3 linked regions of the Homo sapiens genome follow. The protein of the gene in region 3 interacts with the protein of the main gene of each other region in a biochemical or structural test. Each region holds a gene or a part of one and is shown on either strand. Other genes may lie near its edges. The genes, in order: MAP4K3, DPPA4 and SH3GL1.

Region 1 (7,661 bases), on a different chromosome or scaffold from region 3:
AAAAATCATGAGAAGTCATGGAGAACTATAACAAAGTTAAAGAATACAACACGAGCTCTAAAGAGAAACAAGAAAGAGATAGGGGAAGAAAGGTATCAAAGATATTGCAGTTTACAATTTTCCAGGACTGAGGAAATACGCTACTCTTCAGATTAAAGAAAAACAGTAAATATTTTTATTAAAATCCACACATAACACTGTGAAACTGTACACACCAGAATCAAAGAAAAAAATCTTAAAAGTCAAACAGGGAGGAAAGAAAAAGTAAGATTAGCTAAAAGCAACAATAATTATATTGACAACAGACTTCTCCACAGCACAACAGGTAACCAGAAGACAACAAAAGATCTTCAAAGTGCTGAGAAAAAAACAACCGTTAATTTAGAGTTCTATACCCCACTAAACTATGATTTAAAAGTAAAGACAAAATAAAGACAATGAGGAGGGGGAGGAGGAAGACTGAGTTTACCTTATACAGTTCCTCACTTAAAAAGAAAAGTTAAAAGAAAGAAAAAAAATCCTACCAAATACAGCTTCAAGATTAAAGAAATCTGAACCCAGAATGAAGGAATATAAGGCCAAGAAGAAACAGTGAGCAAAGAAATTGAAAACTCCTACACGTAAATGTAAAGAAGCACTGTCTGTATAAAACAATAATAAAAACTAAACTGGGACATTTAAGAACAGTAGAACCAAAGTAAGAGACAACACAAAACAGTAAGGTAGTGAATGAAATTAAGCCTTCTAAAATCCACATACTGACCAGAAAGAGAACAGAGAAAGATCAGTTAACTTCAGACTAATTACACAAGTTGCAAATTTAACGGTAACCACCAAAAGCATAAAAGTAAAATCTTTTAACTTCTAAATCAATAGAGATGAAAGGGAAGAAATAAAACTTATTGAATACCATCTAAATAGCTACCCAAGCACGTTAGAGAAAAGAGTGGCCCTAATGAATTTGAAAAATACTACATTGTAGGTCAAGTGAGTTCTAAATTCTTCAACTGGCATTCATTTATCTGTATCTTATATATGTGAAACATTATCTACCACATTTCCCAATATGTCTCCTTAGAATAGTTGTCTTATTACTTCTTTGCCCACTTAGGTTCTACAGCAGTATTTTTAACCCATATTTACTCTTTTGGTATGACTTCACAGTTCTCCACAATCGCAAATACAATTTTTCTTCAAGTCCCAGGTCAAGATTCACTCTTTCAGGAAGTCAACTTATTTTTCCCTTAAATTAAAATTCCTACAGTATTTATATAGTTTTATTGTTTTCTTCTAATTGTTAAAATAGTGCCTTAGGCATGTTCCTTAGATGTTCCATACATGCAGATTTTGTTTCCTTATATCAGGGTTTAAGTTCCTCAGGGTAAGAATTTTCTTTAGGATCTCCTAAACAACCTAGCAGTGTTATTTTTCACTTAAGGATGAAGTAAACTTTAAGTGTATTTTCCTTTAATAAGCTCAAAAGCTGTGAGTTTTGCAAAATACACAGAAACACACACATCTCATATATAAAAGTAAACCAAGTTTTATAAGGTATTTGTTATAATCTTTGGGGCCGGCACAGTGGCTCACGCCTGTAATCCCAGCACTTTGGGAGGCTGAGGCAGGTGATCACCTGAGGTCAGGAGTTCGAGACCAGCCTGGCCAACATGGCGAAACTCCATCTCTACTAAAATAATACAAAAAATTAGCTGGGCGTGGTGACGGGTGCCTGTAATCCCAGCTACTCGGGAGGCTGAGGCAGGAGAAGTGCTTGAACCCGGAAGGCAGAGGTTGCAGTGAGCTGAGATCATGCCATCGCACTCCAACCTGGGCAACAAGAGAAAGAGCAAAACTCTGCCTCAAAAAAAAAATCTTTGGATACATAGAAAAAATGGATATCTTTTTAAATAGTCATTTTGCCTGTTTCCCTTTCATTTTTGTCAATTTTTATTAAAAGGAGTCCATGGGCCGGGTGCAGTGGCTCACACCTGTAATCCCAGCACCTTGGGAGGCTGAGGCGGGTGGATCACGAGGTCAAGAGTTCGAGACCAGCCTGGCCAACATGGTGAAATCCCGTCTCTACTAAGAATACAAAAATTAGCCCAGCATGGTGGCACATGCCTATAATCCCAGCTACTCGGGAGGCTGAGGCAGAATTGCTTGAACCCAGGAGGCGGAGGTTGCAGCGACCCGAAATAGCGCCACTGCACTCCAGCCTGGGCGACAGAGCGAGACTCCGTCTCAAAAAAAAAAAAAAAAAAAAAAAAAGGAGTCCATATGCTCAGGGTTAAAAATGAACAAGACTAAGCCAAAGGAAGTCAGAAACTACTAGTACAATGAGAATTTTAATGAAAACTGAAAATATGGCTCACATTATAATTACTACGCAATCCTGGAGAAGTTTTCCACAATTATGTTTCACTGCAATATTAGTAGGAAAAGCCAGGGATAACATTAATTAATTAAAATAAAGCAACATATTGATGAGATAAAGATCATCTAAATAAATGTAAAGGTATATCATATTCATAGATCAGAAGACTCAATGTTTTTAAGATCTCAATTCTCCACTAACTGAGTGACAGATCCCACACAATCCCAGCAGGCTGTGTATATAAAATATCACAAAATTATATACAAAGATATAAAAAATGAATGCATACAAAAACTGGTGAAATCTGACTAAAGCTTAGTTAACTGTATTGTGCCAACTAATTTCCTCGTTTTGATAATGCACTATAGGTATGTAAAGATATCACCACTGGGGGAAGGTGGGTGTTGGGTACATGAGACCTCTTTTCCTCTTTTTGCAATGAATTTAGAATTATGTATCTCAAAATTTAAAGTTAAGACAAAATTCCAGTAGGCTTTTATATTTAACTTGAAAAGCTGATTCAAAAATTTGTATGGAAAAGCAAAGGACCTAGAATAGATAAAACCATTTTGAAAAGGTAGAACAGAATTGGAGGACCCACTCTGCCTAATTTCAAGACTTTTGATAAAGCTACAGTAAACAAGACACTGAGGTATTGGTGAAAGTATAGACATACAGCTCAAAAGAACAAGAGTCCAGATATACTCACATGTGTACTGTCAACTGATTTTCATCAAAAGTGCTGAGGCAATTCACTCATGATTCATTTATACAAAGTTCTAAAAGAGCTTTCATGGTGACCGAAAGGAGAACAATAATTGTGGGTGGGTGGTATTTATGACTGGCTGGGAAGGGGCATGTATTAATCTGTTCTCATGCTGCTAATAAAGACATACACAAGACTGGGTAATTTATAAAGGAAAGAGGTTTAATTGACTCACAGTTCCACATGGCTGGGGAGGCCTTACTATCATGGTGTATGTAGGTTAGCATACAGGCGATGAAGAGGAGATTCTTTGAGCAAGGTAAGGTAGATGATCCTTTATACAGAAAGAATTTTTACAATCTCAAATTTCTAAGAGCTTAAACAAACAAAATAAGTGTCTTATTTCAACATATGTAAATTTATGGTCAAATCTAAAATTATTCTATAGAGTTTAAGGGCTAAGGTAGGCAGTACATTATTACATTAGGAAACCAAACCTATAATCAGGTCAAGGCAGTTAGAACTCAGAAATGTGGCATCTTCCAGAACAAAAAAAGACTAAAAAAAACCTAAAGCAGAAAAGAAATATGATTTTTGTACATATAAAGGTGGTATGAAAAAATAAATAAAAATTAAAAAAGAAACATGATTTCATCTCTTGAATCGAAGGTTTTTTTTGTATTGGTGAACAAAGTCCTCTTCCTAAAAGCCCAATTTAATCGTATTTTAAAAAAAACAAAATAAAAGTCATATGTGATAGCCTACTGCTGTATTCACTAGTCAGTCACTAGGGGTATTTAGTTCAAAATGACGGAGTATCTTCATATGCATATAACAATTATGAACATTGCTTAATATGCCAAAGATACATTAACCCTACTGATTAGATTTAAGACCTAATAATAACCCATTACATTTAACTCATTCTGTACCCACTATTGCCAGAACTCTAAGTCAAGCCCAATGCCACCTCCTCTGCAAGGCCTGCTGTGATTTCTCCCAGTCAGAAATAATGATCTCCTTCCTCTAAACTCATGTAGCCATGGTTTGTTCCTCTCGTGTTGGTTCATTTATTCATTCCATAAATATTTATTAAGAACCTAATATGGGTCAGCTACTCTTCTAGGCTCTGGGGATACAGCAATGAACAAAGCAAAATCACCAGTTTCCTGGATTTATACTCTAGTGGGAAGAGACAGGCTATAAACAAATAAACATGTGGTGATACATGCCATAATTAAAAATTAAGTAAAGAGTCCAACTGAATTTTTTGTGAAGCTAACAAAACTTAAAGTTCAGGCCCCTTCACTTGCATGGTCCTCTATGAGTGCTGAGAGTTGCTGGGACATGTAGAGTATTCCAGGTGGAGACAGGGAGCCAGGGAGTCATCAGAAAGCATTTTTTTGTGAGCATTTGTGATTAAATGCCTAAGGAAGTCTCAGAAGAAAGGGACCTAAGGTTACAGTATTTTGTTGGGATATCTTTTCTCATTCTAAAGATTCACTTTCATACCTTTTTTAATTCTAGTTTTGTTTTCTTAATGAGGGTCCCCAAAACTGCATCAACTTCAGGTCCCGTAAAACCTGGATCCATCCCTGAACTGTATCCCTGAAAGTGGTGGGAGAAGTGCTGTTTTTTGTAGGGTGGAAAGGAGCAGGCTCATTAAAAGATGACATTTGAGCTGAGACTTTAAACGAAGAAGCAAGCCAAACAGATATTGGTGGGGAGGGGTGGATTTTAGGCAGAGACAGCAAGCTAAAAACCCTGAGGCAAAGCATGAGGAATGCAGTTGGTTAGAAGGACAGTAGGAGGAGAAATACATAATAATAAATACTTCTAGACACTAACAGCAATTAACAATGACCACACTTTTTTGTGTCAGGTACTGTCCCAAGCACTTTTCTAAGCATCTCCATTTTACAGCTGAGGAAACTGAGACACACAGAGAGGGATTAAGTAATTGGCCTAAGGACAAAGCTAGTGGGTGGTGAAACTAGGCAGCCTGGCTCCAGAACCCTGTTCTCAAATCACTATGCTGTGCTACAGAGGTCGGTTGTGCAATTATGGAGTATCTAGAGAGTCTCTCAGCCAGCAAGAGATTTAATATGATATAAATGAGGAAACCAAAAGGTTCTGATCTCAAACTATGACAGCTAATAGCAGGTACACATTTTATGTTCCTGTAAATACCAAGTACCAAGCCTTGTCATTTCTGCTACTCTACTCACAGTTCATAACACATTTCCTCTCATATTACAGCTGTTCAATGTATGATGGCTGTTCAATGTACTCTCATGAGAGAACTTACTATTCATTCTTAATACAAAATGATGCATTAGATACGTTTCACCAATAAATACATATACAGATCAAAGGCTGGAGGTAAGTACTTCCTTTAGGTAATCAGATCTGCATCAAAGTCAGAAAACCTGTTTGTTTTTCAAACACTCTAGAAAAATTACCTCGCTACCTGTTTCATTGTCACTTTTCATCTCAAATAGCAACTGATGATGGGAAATTCTACCTTATTCAACTTCAAATGATCTTTCTGAAGTTTAGGGCCATTTCTTCTGGTCTCTCTAGAGTCTATTAGAGTCTATCCTAAATGGAAGTAAATAGAAGTGAGCATAACTCCAAATAACAATGTTTGAGCTTCCTTCAAATGTTCTTTTCTAAATGCTTAAGGTCTTCATATTCCTTATCCGTTAGGTTTAAGAATTGAGTTTTCCAGAAAGGTTCTCACAAATGCTGATTATAATGGAAGAATTAGTCTATGATGATATTAAATAGAACACCTTGAAAGATGCATAATTACAAATAAACTAACACGTAATTATCTAAATGCATATAAATTGGTTTCCTTATTTTACTGCCCAATCCTCACCTTTTTTCCTGCCAGCTTTCACAGACACTTTAAATCTATTTACACAGACTACGATGTGAATCCTACCTGGAAGCTTAACAACACGGCAGCCCGTGCTTCAGAGGGAATGGCTTCCAAACACACAAAGGTGAAAAAAAATCAATATCAACGTTTCCAAAGCATGTTCTACAAAACACTAGTACTAAGGACAAGCAATATGTATTACAGAGAAAAAGAATCTAATAGTCAAGTAAGTTTGGAGTTTGCTAGGTTAAGCAAAGTTTACCAGGTTTCTTTACCATAGGACTTCTCAGTCTTTAACCTACTCATGGTATGGCTTTTCCTGAAGCACCCCAACCACACTTTGGAAAATGCCTGTGTACAGAATTTAGCTAATGCCTAAGAAGCCCAGTCCAGAAGTCACTAAAGATGACTCTAAGGCTTACAGCCTGGAGTCTTTGTGTATCCAGTCTTGGATACACAGGCTAGGAATCATTCACAGGGACCAGACTAAAACCATAAGACTAGGTAAGATACTTCCTCAGAAACCATATTGAGACTATTCTTTCAAAACTTCTTTTGCCTTATCCCATCTCCAGCTTTACTATCTCCTGCTTCTTTCTAGCAAAAAATCTAGAAAAACATAAGGACATCAAGACTTAAAGGGTAGGAATAATAAAAATTAAACTGGAAAACTGCCTGACAAAAGATGGCACAATGCATGTGAAAATCATATTATGATCTATTATAACTACCTAATTTCTCCAAGAAAACTTTTTTGAATGGCAAACCTATGGATCATTTTTTCATTTTTTTGGATCATGAAGCTCTTTAAGAATGCAATGAATGCTATAACCCATCTCCACAGAAAAACACAAATACATACAACATTAAGCCTATTAATTTCAGAGCACTCCATGGGCCTCCTGAGGCCCAACTAAAGAGCTTCAGTTGCCAGCTCCTAGGTCCCTAGGTAACCCAAGCTGCAGGCACTTCATGACAGATAAAGCCTGCAGAGTTACACGACACTTACAAGATACGACTTTAGACAGTGCAGATAAAATGTATATATGCATTGGCCTGAAAAAAATAAAGATAACTTACTTACTAAGTAAAATTTGAGTCATTTAGTCAATACCAAAAGAAGAAGGGCATATGATGGTAATAATATCTCCACAACAAAACAGCTCTGAGAGGTTGATTTCACAAGGTCACATAGCTAATAAATCCCAGATTGTCCACATCCTTGTTCAGTGCTTTGGAACTAAACCACGCCACCTTAAGTACAATAAATATGTTATTACATTGAGTAGGAAAACATTTTCAAAATAAAAATCTCCACCAACCTTCCAAGAATGACTATAATCGGATCTCTTATTTATTTAATCCAATCATTCCATTTTTAGCACGTAAATGCTGACAAATTAAGGAACAAATTATATATATTGGCTTTTGAAAACAAAATGTACTTCTCTCTAGCACAATTAATTTGTATAAATAAGAAAAAACTAAAACAGCAAAACAAATAACAAAAAAATGTAACTTTATAGAATAAACTTGATTATAGACAAAAACATAAACAAGAGTTTGGCAGGCAGGGGTACATGATGTCAAGAACCACATGAAGTTTCTCTGCTTTGGTCACTGGTATTGGAAGAGTCTGGCAGGCAGGGACCAAGCATCTATTATCTGATATCCACTTGGCAGACTACATAAAC
Region 2 (7,661 bases), on a different chromosome or scaffold from region 3:
GCACTCCAGCCTGTGTGACAGGGCAAGACCTTTTCTTTAATAAATAAATATTTTTTAAAAAAATGAAAGTGAGGAGCATATCAAAGCCAATGCCTAGTATGAGACAGAGGCTCAATATATGTTACTGTCTCTGGATTAAACAACTTTTCCCCACTCCCACTTTGCTTCCTTTAATTCAATGAACCAATATTTATTGAGTGCCTATGATGAAAAAGAAATCACACAAACCAATGTAATTGCAATTAACAAGTGGTAGAAATGAGGTAGTATTTAGTAGATTGGTCTGGAAGGACCAGGTTAAATAGCACTTGAGGTGAGACTTTTAAAAGAAGAGTAAGATTTTTAAGGTGTAAGATTTTAAAGTGTAAATAGAAGTAGGGTGGAGGTTGGGGCTGAGGAATGTAACAACTTTGGAAAGGAAAGGAATTATGTGGCTGGAGCTTGGTCAGGGAGAGCAGTGTGAAATAGGAGATAAGAGGCTGGTAGGTAATGTTAAAGACAATTACTTTTATGTTAAGAGCAATAAACCACTGAAACTTTTCATAGTGTCACTCTGCCAACAGTGTTAGAAAATTATTTGGAAGGCGTCAAGAATGAAGGACTGGGGGAAAAAATTCTGCCAGGTGAGAGATGATGGAATATAGTAAGTGAGTTAAGGGCCTCTTTTTTTTTTTTGAGACAGTCTCATTCTGTCACCCAGGCTGGAGTGCAGTGGTGCAGCCTCTACCTACCTCCCTGGCTCAAGCAATCCTCCTATCTCAGTCTCGAGTAGCTGGACTACACGCACACACCACCATGCTCAGCTAATTTTGTTTCCTTATGTAGAGGCAAGGTTTCACTATGTTGTTGCTCAGGCTGGTATCCAGTTACTGGACTCAAGCAATCCTCTTGCCTAGGCCTCCTATAGCACTCAGACTACAGGCGTGAGCCTACCTAAGCGCTTTTTCCCCTCAAGGCAGAGCTGTTTTCTTCTACTCTTGTTTGTATCTGTCTTTTCATGTGCTTTCAAACTGGCTTCCTCCCTTTTTTTCCATCATTGTTTCCCAGTCTTGTAAATGAAACTGAGTATTAAGATGATACCCAGAGGAGAATCCACACTGCCAGTGGAGTCCAGTAACTGCGTTGGTGCCTTAGAAGTGAGTTATCTTGAGGCAGGTAGTGTATGTGTGGTTTGGACACTAGAGGAATGACTGACCAGCTCCTCTGTTCCCCAGTGGACCTCCACAGAGAAGTCGAGGGAAGAGGATCAGCAGGCTTCTAATCAACCAAATTCAATTGCTTTGCCAGGAACATCAGCAAAGAGAACCAAAGAAAAAATGTCTATCAAAGGCAGTAAAGGTAAGAGGTCTTCAAATTCTCAAATCCCACCTTCTCGGGTCTTAGAAGCCAGAGGAATTTTTCTGAAGAAGAAAAACCAGGGAAGAAATTTCCATCATGTATTGTGCAAATCCTGCACTTCATGGAAGCCAAGCTTAAACTGTTACCTTCCTGAAGCATCTTTTGGTCACCACTGCTCTAACTGATCCCTTCCTATCTTCAGACTTCCACAGCATATTTGGTTCTGCTGATCATTTTTTCCTTCACTTGCTACTTGGAGTTAAGGATTTCAGTGTGCAATGATTTGGGAACAGACAGCTGTAAATTTGAAGATCCATTCTTGAAACCGGACTTCCTATTCTAAAAATAAGTTAGGACAATATCTACCTTTATTAAGCGGTGGGAATGGAGTGTTAAAATTTACATAGAGTAGTTAAGTGAAGCACTTAGACTATGCCTGAGAAGTAATATGTACAGAGTAAACCCTACTATTAGTGTCATTACAGGCTGGTTTTTTTTTTTTTTTTTTTTTTTTTTTTTTGAGACACCAAGACAGGGTGTTGCTCTGTCATCCAGGCTGGAGTGTGGTGGCACCATCTCAGCTCCCTGCAACCTGTGCCTCCCGAGTTCAAGCAATTCTCCTGTCTCAGCCTCCCAAGTTAGCTAGGATTGCAGGCGTGTGCCACCATGCCTGGCTGATTTTTGTATTTTTAGTAGAGACAGGGTTTCACCATATTGGCCAGGCTGATTGCAAACTCTTGGCCTCAAGTGATCGTCTGCCTTGGCCTCCTAAAGTGCTGGGGTTACAGGTGTGAGGCACCATGCCCAGCCTTAGAAATTTTTATGGCACGATCCCGGCCCACTACAACCTCTGCCTCCCGGGTTCAAACAGTTCTCCTGCCTCAGCCTCCCAAGTAGCTGGGATTACAGGCATGTGCCACCACGCCCAGCTAATTTTTTAAGTAGAGACGGCGTTTCACCATGTTGACCATGCTGATCTCCAACTCCTGACCTCAGGTTATCCACCCACCTCGGCCTCCCAAAGTGCTGGGATTACAGTGTGAGCCACTGCGCCCAGCCAGAAATCTTTACTGAATGAAGACAAGGTATGTGAGGTGCAGAAGCGGGATGAACAGAAACACAGCAGAGCTAAGGAAACATACCTGCTATGAAACCAGAGTGCTTCCCTGACCTAGGGTGGGCTGGCAGAATTAAGGGTATTAGTGGTTGCCTGTGTAGCATTGTCAGGTGTTGATTTTGCTCTGGGGGTAGAGGACACCACTGAGTATGATCTCAAGTCTAAGACAGCGGTAATTCCCCTGGGATGGAAGTGCAACCTCCGATGCCACCACCTGGATTCTGTGGATTAAGGAGCTCACAAAGGAGCAAGTGTACCTCAGTAGTGGGGCAATTTAGGAATAAAACTGGGTTTTAGAAGTGGTAAATCCTAGGTTTGAGAGGGATTGGACTATTAACTAAAAGTGATTTTAGGCTGGGCGCGGTGGCTTAGGCCTGTAATCTCAGAACTTTGGGAGGCCTAGGTGGGCAGATCACAAGGTCAGGAGTTCGAGACCAGCTTGGCCAACATGGTGAAACCCCATCTCCACTAAAAATACAAAAAATTAGCCGGGCGTGGTGGTGGGCGTCTGTAATCCCAGCTACTCAGGAGGCTGAGGCAGGAGAATCACTTGAACCCACGAGGCGGAGGTTGCAGGGAGCCAAGATCGCGCCACTGCACTCCAGCCGGGCGACAGAGCAAGATTCTGTCTCAAAAAAGAAAAAAAAAGTGATTTTACTTTTGAAATTCAGAAAAGCTACACAAAGATAATTACTACTCATTTGATTCCATTCTGCTTCAGTGCTCTGCCCTAAGAAAAAGGCAGAGCACACTGACAACCCCAGACCTCAGAAGAAGATACCAATCCCTCCATTACCTTCTAAACTGCCACCTGTTAATCTGATTCACCGGGACATTCTGCGGGCCTGGTGCCAACAATTGAAGCTGAGCTCCAAAGGCCAGGTGAGGTCCCAGGCTGGGGACGGTGCTGCTGGGAGGAAGGGTAGGAACCTTATTTGCCTTACTAACTCAGTTTTCTATTGTCTTAGAAATTGGATGCATATAAGCGCCTGTGTGCCTTTGCCTACCCAAATCAAAAGGTAACTTTTTAAAGGATGGACGTTTCAATGCTTATCCTAATTACCTATTGTAGCCTCAAAAGTGAGTAAAGGAACTGTCTTAGCCTCACCTTGTTCCTCCACCCCTAGTTCTAAGAAAGAACAATATTTCCCATCTCTACTTCTCTTTTTTTTCTTTCTTTCTTTCTTTTTTTTTTTTTTTTTTTTTTTTGAGACAGAGTCTTGCACTGTCACCCAGGCTGGAGTGCAGTGGCACCATCTCGGCTCACTGCAACCTTCACTTCCCGGGTTCAAGCAATTCTCCTGCCTCAGCCTCCAGAGTAGCTCGGATTACAGGCGCCTGCCTCAGGTGATCCACCCACTTCGGCCTCCCAAAGTGCTGGGATTACAGGCGTGAACCACTGTGCCTGGCCAGCAATTTTCTTTTTTTCTATTTTTTTCTTTTCATTTCTTTTCTTTTCTTTTCTTTCTTTTTTTTTTTTTTTTTTTTTTTTGAGACAGAGTCTCCCTCTGTCACTTAGGCTGCAGTTCAGGCTGCAACCTCTGCCTCCCTGGTTCAAGTGATGCCCCTGTCTCAGCCCCTGGAGTAGCTGAGATTACAAGCATGAGCCACCATGCCTGGATAATTTTTGTATTTTTAGTAGAGACGGGATTTCACCATGTTGGCCAGGCTGGTCTCGAACTCCTGACCTCAAGTGTTTCACCCACCTTGGCCTCCCAAAGTGCTGGGATTACAGACCTGAGCCACTGGGTGGCCAACTGAGCAATTTTCAAGAAGACAGTACATTGTTATTAACTATGTATAGTTACCAACTTGTACAATAGATCTCTTGAACCTAGTCCTCCTAAGTGAAACTTTGTATTTGATCAAGAGCTCCTTAGGCCATTTTTGTTAGAATTTTAATCTGTATTTTTATCTTTATTATTTAACCCTTTTTGTAGGATTTTCCTAGCACAGCAAAAGAGGCCAAAATCCGGAAATCATTGCAAAAAAAATTAAAGGTGGAAAAGGGGGAAACGTCCCTGCAAAGTTCTGAGACACATCCTCCTGAAGTGGCTCTTCCTCCTGTGGGGGAGCCGCCTGCCCTGGAAAATTCCACTGCTCTCCTTGAGGGAGTTAATACAGTTGTGGTGACAACTTCTGCCCCAGAGGCTTTGCTGGCCTCCTGGGCGAGAATTTCAGCCAGGGCGAGGACACCAGAGGCAGTGGAATCTCCACAAGAGGCCTCTGGTAAGCGCAACATGAAGAGCTTATTCTGGTCCAATGGGGAAATAAGCTTAGTAGATATTAATCACTGGTACATTTTAGGGTATATCAAAATCCCTTTGAGGGCCGGTGATTCCTGGACCCTGCCCACAGAGTTTCTGGTGCAGGTCTAGGGCAGGACCTGAGCATTTATTTGCATTTCTTTTTTTTTTTTCCTTTTTTTTTTTTTTTTTTTTTTTTTTTTTTTGAGACAGTTTCTCCCTTGTTGCCCAGGCTAGAGTGCAGTGGCGCGATCTCAGCTCACCGCAACCTCCACCTCCCAGGTTCAAGCAATTCTCCTGCCTCAGCCTTCCTGAGTAGCTGGGATTACAGGCATGTGCCACCATGCCCGGCTAATGTTGTCTTTTTAGTAGAGATGGGGTTTCTCCATGTTGGTCAGGCTGGTCTCGAACTCCCGACCTCAGATGATCCTCCCACCTTGGCCTCCCAAAGTGCTGGGATTACAGGCGTGAGCCACCGTACCTGGCAAGAGTTTGCATCTCTAACAGTTTCCCAGGCAGTACTAAGGATGCTGGTCTGGGGACCACAGTTTGAGAACCACTGCTCTAAATTATTGATGGCATCAGAAGGGGATAGCAGTCTGGTTTTCTTTCTTTACCCTTTAAGCAATTTAAATTAAAGGCAAGGTCTAAAATTAATTGCCTGCAACTGAGCCCCAGAATGGCATTAATAAGTTATTTAAAATATTTCCCAGCGTTTTCATTGTAAAATGGGTAATACCTACCTTATATGTTGGAAGAATTACAGAAAGTACAACAAAAGAAGACAAACTGCTTAGCATAATCCAATGTGTGTTAAGAGCTGAGACCCCTGAGCTTATTTCATGAAGCCCTTTCCAGACACTCTGGGTTAGTCTTTCTACCATCTGCCCACCTACAACTATACTACTTCCAACTAGATTTTTAAGTTTTAACAGGAACTGTCTTGTATGCTTTTTGTTTTGTTTTGCTTTTGATATGGAGTCTCGCTCTGTCACCCAGGCTGGAGTGCAGTGGTGCAATCTTGGCTCACTGCAAGCACCGCCTCCCGGGTTCACGCCATTCTCCTGCCTCAGCCTCCTGAGTAGCTGGGACTACAGGCCCCCGCCACCACGCCTGGCTAATTTTTTGTATTTTTAGTAGAAACGGGGTTTCACTGTGTTAGCCAGGATGGTCTCGATCTCCTGACCTCGTGATCCACCCGCCTCGGCCTCCCAAAGTGCTGGGATTACAAGCGTGAGCCACTGCGCCCAGCTTGTATGCTTTTCTAAAGGAGAACAGAATAGAGAAGAGGTTAAGTTAGGATTTCAGGGTTCACATCTTGGAGCTGGTCAATCAAGGGTGATGGGCCATAATGCAGTCTTACATCAGTATGTCATCCTGGTGTGCGGGTACCTGTCTCTTTCCTTTGCCATTGCCAGGTGTCAGGTGGTGTGTGGTCCATGGGAAAAGTCTCCCTGCAGACACAGATGGTTGGGTTCACCTGCAGTTTCATGCTGGTCAAGCCTGGGTTCCAGAAAAGCAAGAAGGGAGAGTGAGTGCACTCTTCTTGCTTCCTGCCTCCAATTTTCCACCCCCGCACCTTGAAGACAATATGTTGTGCCCCAAATGTGTTCACAGGTAATTACCTGATGCTTTTCTACAAACTAAAAGTGGGTGCCGGATTTTCAATTGCAGAAAGTTAAGATATACATTAATCTTAAATAGCCAGGTATTTCAAGCTCAAATTGTCAGTAAAGAGTTTCAAGAAAATTATTACTCAGTTAAGTTTATCCCCAGGAAAAAGAAAGCATTTATGTGTCAGGGTTTAATGCTTCTACCTGGAGACACAGAATTCTGGGAGCAACAAACATTATATAATTACTATATTCAAAGTGTATGCTCTACACAGAAATAATGACTAGCAAAAAACCTCTTCCTTTAAGTAGCCTACAGTCTTAACAGGGATGGTGGGCATGTAAACACCTAGAATAACATGATGAATATCAAAGAAGAGGTTCCTTAAGTTAAGGGAAGAATCGACTAGATGGAAAGGAGAGATCGGTAATTTCTCAGCCTGGGAAACGTAGCAAGACCATCTCCCACAGGAGGAAGTATGTGAATGTGTGATTGGCTTTTCCTTCTTTGGGATATCCTACTTTTTGCTGTGAGTGTTTTGATAATCTCTCTATGCCAAGCAAGTTGAAGAGAACTGAGGAGGTCACTTTGGGTAGTCCTTTAATGACATACTTAGGTTTTTGGGAAAGTGATGAAAAGAGCCCCTCCAAGGCCTCCTGTCCATGGTTGGCACAAGTCAGGGAATATATTACAGAGGCATGATAACTTGGCTGATGATCTTCATTCTTGAATGACAGGATCACAGGCTTGCTACCTATGATCCTAAAGTTGTAAGGGCAATTTCAACAGCATTCCAGCAGCGGGTTTCTTGGCTATTTTTAATATTTCTTCATTCTTTTTAAAAACAAATACTTTATTTGCTTTATAGGAACAAGGTCTTAATAAAAAGCCTCCAATGGGAATAGAATATCAGGAAAAAGGCCACATCTATGGTAATTAATGGCAGAAAAGCTGGAGAGTTGGATTCTGCGGTGCTGCTGACAGGTGAACTCTGGTCCTCTGCACCTGTTTATGGGCCATGCAGACTGGTGGGGTGGCAGATGTTAGCCTAAGACCCCTAGCAGTGCCTGTTGCTTTGTGAGTGGAGATAGAGACTCTTACATTTAAAAATGGAAAAACATTTCACAAATTACCATAAATTGTAGTTAATATGTAGAAAAACTCATTCATACTACTTTTCTAAAATAGACATGACTTCAGCAGCAGCTTTTTTTTGTTGTATTTTGAGACAGTGTCTCACTGTTGCCCAGGCTGGAGTGCAGTGGTGCAATCTCAGTTCAGTGCAATCTCCGCCTCCTGGGTTCAAATGATTCTCCTGCCTCAGCCTCCTGAGTAGCTAGGTACAG
Region 3 (7,661 bases):
CAGGGCGGGAGGAGAAACACCCTCCCCGAATGGCCGAGAAGGCAGCACTGAGGTCGAGGCGGGCCTGGGAACACTCACGCATGCTCCGGCTAGGGGTCCGGATGGGCTTGTCGGAAGATCGGAAAGACGATGAAGCTAAACACAAGCAAAACGAGGAGGCTGTGGGCTCAAAACGGTCGGGCAGGGCCCCTTCTGCAGAAGGCTGGGGCCAGCCCTTCCCGTCTGCCTTGGCGGTCCAGATGGAGCACGGCTGAGAGCTGCACCCAGGAGTCTGGCGCTCAGAGACCCAGGACAGGGCCAGCCCTTGGCCACTCCCACCCGCTGGCATTTGCCTCCGCAAGAGGGCTCCATGCCCCATTACCTGCGATCTTGGGGGCTGTGGTGCAGGGGAAGCCCCCGTTGGACTGCTCAGGCTCTCCAAGGTCAAAGGGCTCCCGGGGCTTGGGCTTATACTCCCGCTTAGGGCGTGAGGAAGCTTCCCGCATCCTGTGAAGGGAGAGGCGTGAGTGGACCGAGCCCGTGTCACGGCCGAGGCAGCCCCACTCTTGTATTTATGCTGCTGCCTAATGACCTGGCCTGGGACTGCAGGAAGAGGCCGTCAGTGGGGTTGTGACACATGGACCCTGGGACACAGCTAGACTGGGATGTCTACCCAGAGGGCCTCCAGCCTGGACCCCCACCTTGGAGGCATCCCAGAGATTGCCAAGCAGCTGGGGCCTGCCACAGCATCTACCTACAACACCCCCAGTCGCATCCCCTGCCTCCTCCCCCAATTCCCCACCACGGACGGCGCCCCACATACGCCAAGGCCCCTGAAGCAGGTCTGGCCTCTGCATTCAGGGAGGGGAGCCTGGGTGTTCCTGTGGCAGCAGCAACGTGCAGCCAGGGAGGGAGTCCCCGGGGCCTGCATCGGGGCAGGGCTGGGTGTTGACTCAGAGTTCTCAGAGCCCCAGCTCCTCTGACCTCGCGGCCCCCCAGGCCTTTCCACTCAGTCCCCAGGAAGAATCCAGGATGCTGCTCTGCCATGTGCTCACCCCACAGCGAGGTGTGCTGCCCACTTGCGCTGGCAGAGGGCGCATGGCAGCCCAGACTCTGGAGAGACCAAGGCCCTGGGCTCACCTGCGCTTGAGCTTCTCCGCCAGCTCGTCCAGGATCTGCACGGCCTGCCGGTGGTAGTCCAGCTGTGCATCCACCAGGGCCGAGAGCTGACTCACCTGCTCGATCTGTGGGGACAGTAGGGCTCAGGGGCTCCTGCCAGTGCCACTGTCCTGTGCCTTCCCTGACTCCCGAGGTGAAGCCACAGGAGGCAAGGGGGCTGAGAGGGGACAGGGGACTGGGGCCCATACCCTCCACCTCCCCTGCTGCAGCGGCCAGGTAGGTGCCGATCTGTCCTCCAGCTCCCTTGAGGCACCACCCCGGCCTCCCAAGGGCATAGGTCTTCTCAGGATGTGACACCCCGAGCTACTCACGTCAGTCTCCAGGAGGTTGTGCATGCTGGTTTCTGCCACCTCCTTGGACTCCTCGAACTTCTCCAGCGCCTGGCGTAGCTCCTCATCGGGGATCTTGCCCTGCCGCTTCTTCTTGTAGTCAAAGTCCAGGCGGCGGCCCTCCAGTTTCTTCAGGTGGTGCTGGAGACGTGGGGGACATGGGTCACACCAGTAGCGGCCAGAGGGCCGCCCCACGCATGGCTTTGACCCACTGTCCCTGCACCACTGGGGATCCTGCCTGCCTGAGACCCAGAGGGCAGTGCCGAGGCTGGAGGTGAGGGTGGCAGGAATGGGGCTGCCCCATCCGGCAGGGGGAAGGGACAGGCCCCAGGCTGGCGCAGGAGCAGCACCTGGATCTCCTTCAGGTCTTTCTCGCACAGGTTCTGGAGGGGGTCAATGAAGTTCTGCTTGACCTCGATGTCCAGGGAGTCCTTCACCTCTGCCAGGCGCTTCATGGACTCGCCGGCATCCAGCAATGCGTCACCTGTGGAGAAGTGGTGGGGGAAGCCATCATACCGGGCCTGGGACCACTAGACTGAGACACTCCTCAGCCTTTGTTTTTGAAATAGCGTTTCACAGGCTGGAACGCAGTGGCGCTGTACCAGCTCACTGCAGGCCTCAAACTGGGCTCAAGCCATGCTGGCACCTCAGCCTCCCAAGTAGCCGGGACCACAGGCGTTCACCCCCACACCTGGATCCTTTCCAACTTCTTTGAGATGAAGTCTCGCTGTTGCCCAGGCTGCAGTGCAGTGGCATGATCTCAGCTCACTGCAACCTCTGCCTCCCAGGTTCAAGCAATTCTCCTGTCTCAGCCTCCTGAGTAAGGGGGATTACAGGGGCCTGCCACCACATCCAGCTAATTTTTGTATTTTTAATAGAGACGGGGTTTCACCATATAGACCACACCGGTCTCGAACTCCTGACCTTGTGATCCGCCCGCCTCGGCCTCCCAAAGTGTTGGGATTACAGGCGTGAGCCACCGCACCCGGTTTTTGTTTTGTTTTGTTTTGTTTTGTTTTTTCATAGTCTCGGCTCACTGCAACCTCCACCTCCTGGGTTCAAGTGATTCTCCTGCCTCAGCCTCCCGAGTAGCTGGGGTTACAGGCATGCACTACCACACCCGGCTAATTGTGTGTGTGTGTGTGTGTGTGTGTGTGTGTGTATATATATATATATATATTTTTTTTTTTTTAGTAGAAGCGGGGTGGGGTTTCTCCATATTGGTCTTGCTGGTCTCGAATTCCCGATCTCAGGTGATCCACCTGCCTTGGCCTCCCAAAGTGTTGGGATTACAGGCATGAGCCACCACACTTGGCCCCATCCCAACTTCTAACAGCCCCCCAACACTCTAAGCCCAGGGCCCGGAAATTGGAACTCAGGGCAAAACAAAGGATCCTAAAATCCGAATCGATGCTGGACGTTAAACCAGACCCTCCAATGCTCCTAAAAGGGCCTAGGTTTGCCCTTAACAGGTGGAAGGACAGATGCTGGGGGGTCCAGGCCCTGGGGAAGCAGCTGGCTTGAGTTGGGGAAGGTCTGGAGCTACAGGAAGGGGCCCTATCAGCTGCTGGCCAGTGCTGGATGGGTTGGTCTGTGCAGTCTCCTGCACCTCTGCAGCTGGAAAGCTGTGGGGGCCACTGTACGTCCCCGGCACTCAGCACATGCAGGGCCTGGACCTGCCCTGCCTGTGTTGAGGTGTGGCCTCCAGGGACGGTGGGCGTGGCTTCCAGAGAGCACCACTCACCAAAGTTGGACTCGCCGCCCAGCTCCTTCCCGTGGCGGATCATGCACTCGCCCAGAAGCCCCTCCGACTGCGGGTAGCCGGGGTTCTTCACCTGGCCCCGGATCTTGGACACCGTGTTGAGCATGGTCAGCTTAGCCCGCGAGGCTGGGATAGGATGGCCAGGTGGGTGTGGGCTGTGAGGCCTGCACTCCTCTGCCCTGGCAGACTGCAGCCCCCACATCTCCTCCCCACCCTTGCTTCCTGTGCCTGTGGACAGCCTAGGCCACACAAAGCACAGTGGAATCCCCAGAGGGTCCCTTCCCTGCTCCTGCTAGCCTCAAAGGAGCTGGCAGCGGGTGGAGAGGTGACCAAGCTCCTCAGGGGGCAAAACCTCCTCCTTCCAAGGGCTGCTCCTCTTGGAACGTGGCTATGACCCCTCATCTGGGGGGTGCCAGGGAGGAGGCGCAGCAGTGATGTGCAGCGGGGGGTGGTTGAGGCCAAGGCTCCCGGGGTGGGTGATGAGCTGTGTCCCTTCCGCTGCCCGCTTGGGTCTGCTCCTGGCAGGGCCTGAGTGGACACTGCTGGGTGTGCGTCTGCCCCCTGTCCGTGGCCTCCTATGGAGCCAGCATTTGGGTTTTCCTTGGGGAAAAGCCCGTCTCTCAGCCAGGGAGACCCAGTCCCAAGCCCAAGAGGTGAAGTCCAGGCCAGGGGCACTGGGGAGGGGCGGCCAATACAAATGGATCCCACAAGTAAGCTGGGGGAGAGGCTCCCTGCCAGGACTGCTGGCTGGAAGAGGGGTTGAAGGCTGGGACGGCCCTGAGGAACCAGTCGGCATGAGAGTGAAGCCAACAGAGGGGCTGAGCTGCTGGTTGAGGTGGAAAGGCAGCATGCAGCACCAAGGATGGCCTCTGCACTCCGGGATCCAGCTGTGCCTGAAGCCCACAACCCATGAGCCTGGCGGTTCTGTCATCCCCTGCCTTCCCTCTGACACAGAGGCCAGAGGGCCTGGGGCAGGCCCTGGCAGTGGCTGGAGCACCCACCTGGGTTGGGCTGCAGGTACTCGATGGTCCTGGCCAGCACTTCTGTCACCGCCTTGCTGGTGACATCCACCTTCTGTGAAGAGAAGCAGCATATAAGACTCCACAGCCAGTGGGGGCCCAAGGCACACAAGACCCCCGCTGCTGCACCGCCTCCTGCCCTAAGAGCCCATACCAGGACCCCCCAACCCCCTCTCCATGTCTTCAGCTCAGCCATGTCCCCACAGCTGCCTGCCCACGGCAGGGGAGAGAGCTGGTGCCCGTCAAGTCCAGCTGACGAGGCCCCCACACCACCCCATCTCTCCACACCTGCCGGGCCCCATCACTCCAGACCCAGGCCCATCAAGGTTGGCCGCCTCCACTATGCCCGGCAGAGGTCAGGCCCCAGCAGTGCCACCACCACACAGAGCACGCAGTTTCTTCCTCACCTTCTCCATCTCTTTGAAGTCATCATCCAGCTTGGTCCCCTCGGCCCCTCCGACCTTCTCACTGACCAGCTAGAGGACAGAAGAGGGGAAACGCTGTGAGCCCAGGGGTAGGAGGAAGAAGAGGACAGGAGGCCCTGAGCCGCCTTCCAGCCACATCGCATCCACAGCTGGAGGCAGGAGGCCAAGTGATCAGGACACACACCTCAGGCACTGCCGTGGGCACCCCAGGGCCACACGCTGCCTGCAGAGCAGGGTGGGCCTGCAGGGGGAGGGGGAGGGTGGGGGTGGCCTGCCCACCTGTGTGTGTCCCGACTGCCACTCACATACCCACTGGGGACCCTGCCACAGTAGGCCCCATCTGGGCCACGGTGGAGTCCAGAGCCTCAGCCTGAGAACACATGGCTCAGAAGACACTGCTTCCAGAAGCGCCTACACAAACATCCCCACAGATAGCAATGTGGGGATCTGCCCCCATCCTTGAGTATGTGGGGTCTACTTAAAAAAAAAAATCCTGCCAGCTTGGCTGGGAGAGGCAGCAGGAGCTGACAGTTACGAGAAGAGGTGCAGGCAGCCGGGCAGGGAGGCCGCCATTCTCCTGTGCTCTGGTGCCCGTGTCTGCAGGATGGGACAGCCCAGCCCTTGCCCCATGTGGACACTGAGTTTCACAAGGCAGTCAACACAGGCCTGGCACACCTTGGTCCTCACGGCTCTCAGCTACGGTGAAAGCGATGACAATGACAGGCACTTACAGCGTCTTTCCTCGTGTGGTGGGAAGGCAGAAGCAAGCACTGAATTCCCAAACCACTCCCTCTGACAGCGCCTGGGATGCGAAAAACAGCCCTGAAATGTCCCATGGAACATGGCGGGAACCACTGAACCCCAGCACCGCTGTCTGAGCACAGGCGTTGCTTTCTTCACCCCACGTATCCCATGTGTGCCTGGCGCCAAGGGATGCCGCACAGAGTGAGGATGGACAGTGTGAGGCCCTTCCCAGCACACAGCGCTTCATGAAGAGCCGAGTGGCTGCCAGGCCCTGCCACAAATGGAGGCTCCCAGAGGGAGGCCGCCTGAGGTCACAAGCTTGGCCCTGCCCTCTGGGGGCCAAGTGTCACAGGGTGTGCCATCTCTGAAGTCATCGGCAAATTTAACATCCCGGGTCTGATCACTTGTGTGAAGACGTGCACACACGGCCTGGGCAGGAGAGTGAGGTGTTGCGTGCCGTGGGCCATGGCCTGTGCCCCTGGTGCTCCCCAGGTCTGATTGGTGCTTGCCTGCCCCGAGCTGTCACAAGACGTGGCCAAGGGATGCCATGAGGGTCCGTGTGGTGCCACACTGCGTTGGCTGTGTGGGGCTGGGGGGTGTCCAGCAGGGCAGTCAGGAGTTTAGGACCCAGCCTGGGAGGAAGTGACCCAAGAGCAGGAAGTGCGGGGGCAGGAGAAGCTTGAGCCTGGGGCTCTGCCCACGCCAGGCACCTGGTGTACCCTCTAGCCCATGCCTGGAGGTCACAGCCCAAGGCACCATGAGTGCAAATGCCCCCAACCCCAAGTTCTGCAAAAGGTAGCCTGCCCGGAGTACACGGCTGGTCTTGTGTCCTGGCAACCTGCCCAAAAAGACACCAGCCCCTTTGCCAAGGAATTCCTGGCCCTCCTCCAAGGCTTGGCTCTGGAAGCCCCCACACCACGGGACTGTCCTCACCCACGCATCGGGACCCTTTCTGTCCACCTGCCTTCATGTGCGGGGTGTGCCGGGCATTCAGTGAGCACAGGCCCCATGCCTCTGACCCCTGTCCCTTTCCTGCCTGTGGGTTGGTGGCTCTCAACTCAGCCACACAGCACCTTGGAAGCTTCTTAAAAATCCCCTCGTTGGCCGGGCGCGGTGACTCATGCCTGTAATCCCAGCACTTTGGGAGGCTGAGGCAGGCGGATCATGAGGTCAGGAGATCGAGACCATCCTGGCTAACACAGTGAAACCCCGTCTCTACTAAAAATACAAAAAAATTAGCCGGGCCTGATGGCGGGTGCCTGTAGTCCCAGCTACTCGGGAGGCTGAGGTAGGAGAATGGTGTGAACCCGGGAGGTGGAGCTTGCAGTCAGCAGAGATCCAGCCACTGCACTCCAGCCTAGGCGACAGAGCAAGACTCCATCTCAAAAGAAAGAAGAAAGAAAAAAAAAATCACCTCGTCACACCCACCGCGGGAGGGCTGACTCTGGCACAGGTGAGAAGCAGGAACTGTCCCTTGCGGGGCAGGAGAGTGGGGCTGCCCTCCATTTCTGCTGAAGGCATTAGGAGGAAGGAGCCCCCCCTCCCTAGGTGTTTTTGGGGCGTTCCACTCTATTTCCTGGGACAGTTTCACTTCTTTTGATTGTGGCGAGAGAGGGCGTGCTCAGAGCCAGCGGCTGCCGGAGAGGGAAATGAGTGGCTGATGTGAGACTGGACTCTTCTGGGAAGCCGGGAGGAGAACTGAAGCCAGCGGGCTGCGAAACCACACCTTCTGGGCGGAGGCCACCCCGGCCCCACGACCTGCCCAGGCAGGACCCAGTGTGCAGGCTGGCAGGAGTGGCTCCGTCAGGGCCCTTCCCCAGCCCCCTGCCTCTCACAGGGCAGGAGGAGAGGCCCTACCGGCGAGGACCACATCCTGCCTCTGAGGGGAGGGGCTGGGGACCCGCCACGGTACCAAAGACCCACCTGGTGGCCTCTGGCTCTGGCCCTGGCCCCACCTGCCCATCTCACCTGGGAATCCAGGACCCTGCCTTCCTGAGCCCCAGGACGACTTCCTGAACCCCCACAACCGCCTGACTCCTCGCACCCCTGACACCCGGGAGGCTGTGCCCTAACTACCCGGGTCCCTCTGCTCAGCTCCAGCCAAGTCCCTTGTGGTGACTGATGGTCCCCCACGGGCCAGGCACTGGGCAGGGGACACAACCCTGTAAGGCCCCTTCTCTCCAAGGCTTATGGGCTAGAAACCAGCACAGATGGACACAGGGAT

The links.
Region 1: the proteins of SH3GL1 (region 3) and MAP4K3 form a complex in vitro, tested with the Homo sapiens proteins (one study listed by BioGRID).
Region 2: the proteins of SH3GL1 (region 3) and DPPA4 form a complex in vitro, tested with the Homo sapiens proteins (one study listed by BioGRID).

What each region holds. Positions count from the first base shown.
Region 1 is NC_000002.12:39,426,822-39,434,482, forward strand, and holds part of MAP4K3 (mitogen-activated protein kinase kinase kinase kinase 3), read right to left. Parts: intron 1-7,661. UniProt on the Homo sapiens protein: Serine/threonine kinase that plays a role in the response to environmental stress. Appears to act upstream of the JUN N-terminal pathway.
Region 2 is NC_000003.12:109,327,547-109,335,207, reverse strand, and holds part of DPPA4 (developmental pluripotency-associated protein 4), read left to right. Parts: intron 1-1,214; coding exon 1,215-1,338; intron 1,339-3,176; coding exon 3,177-3,337; intron 3,338-3,423; coding exon 3,424-3,474; intron 3,475-4,395; coding exon 4,396-4,684; intron 4,685-6,119; coding exon 6,120-6,318; intron 6,319-7,183; coding exon 7,184-7,220; 3' UTR 7,221-7,661. UniProt on the Homo sapiens protein: May be involved in the maintenance of active epigenetic status of target genes. May inhibit differentiation of embryonic cells into a primitive ectoderm lineage.
Region 3 is NC_000019.10:4,362,251-4,369,911, forward strand, and holds part of SH3GL1 (endophilin-A2), read right to left. Parts: intron 4,745-7,661; coding exon 4,676-4,744; intron 4,324-4,675; coding exon 4,251-4,323; intron 3,376-4,250; coding exon 3,232-3,375; intron 1,972-3,231; coding exon 1,838-1,971; intron 1,629-1,837; coding exon 1,470-1,628; intron 1,224-1,469; coding exon 1,120-1,223; intron 487-1,119; coding exon 362-486; intron 136-361; coding exon 79-135; intron 1-78. UniProt on the Homo sapiens protein: Implicated in endocytosis. May recruit other proteins to membranes with high curvature.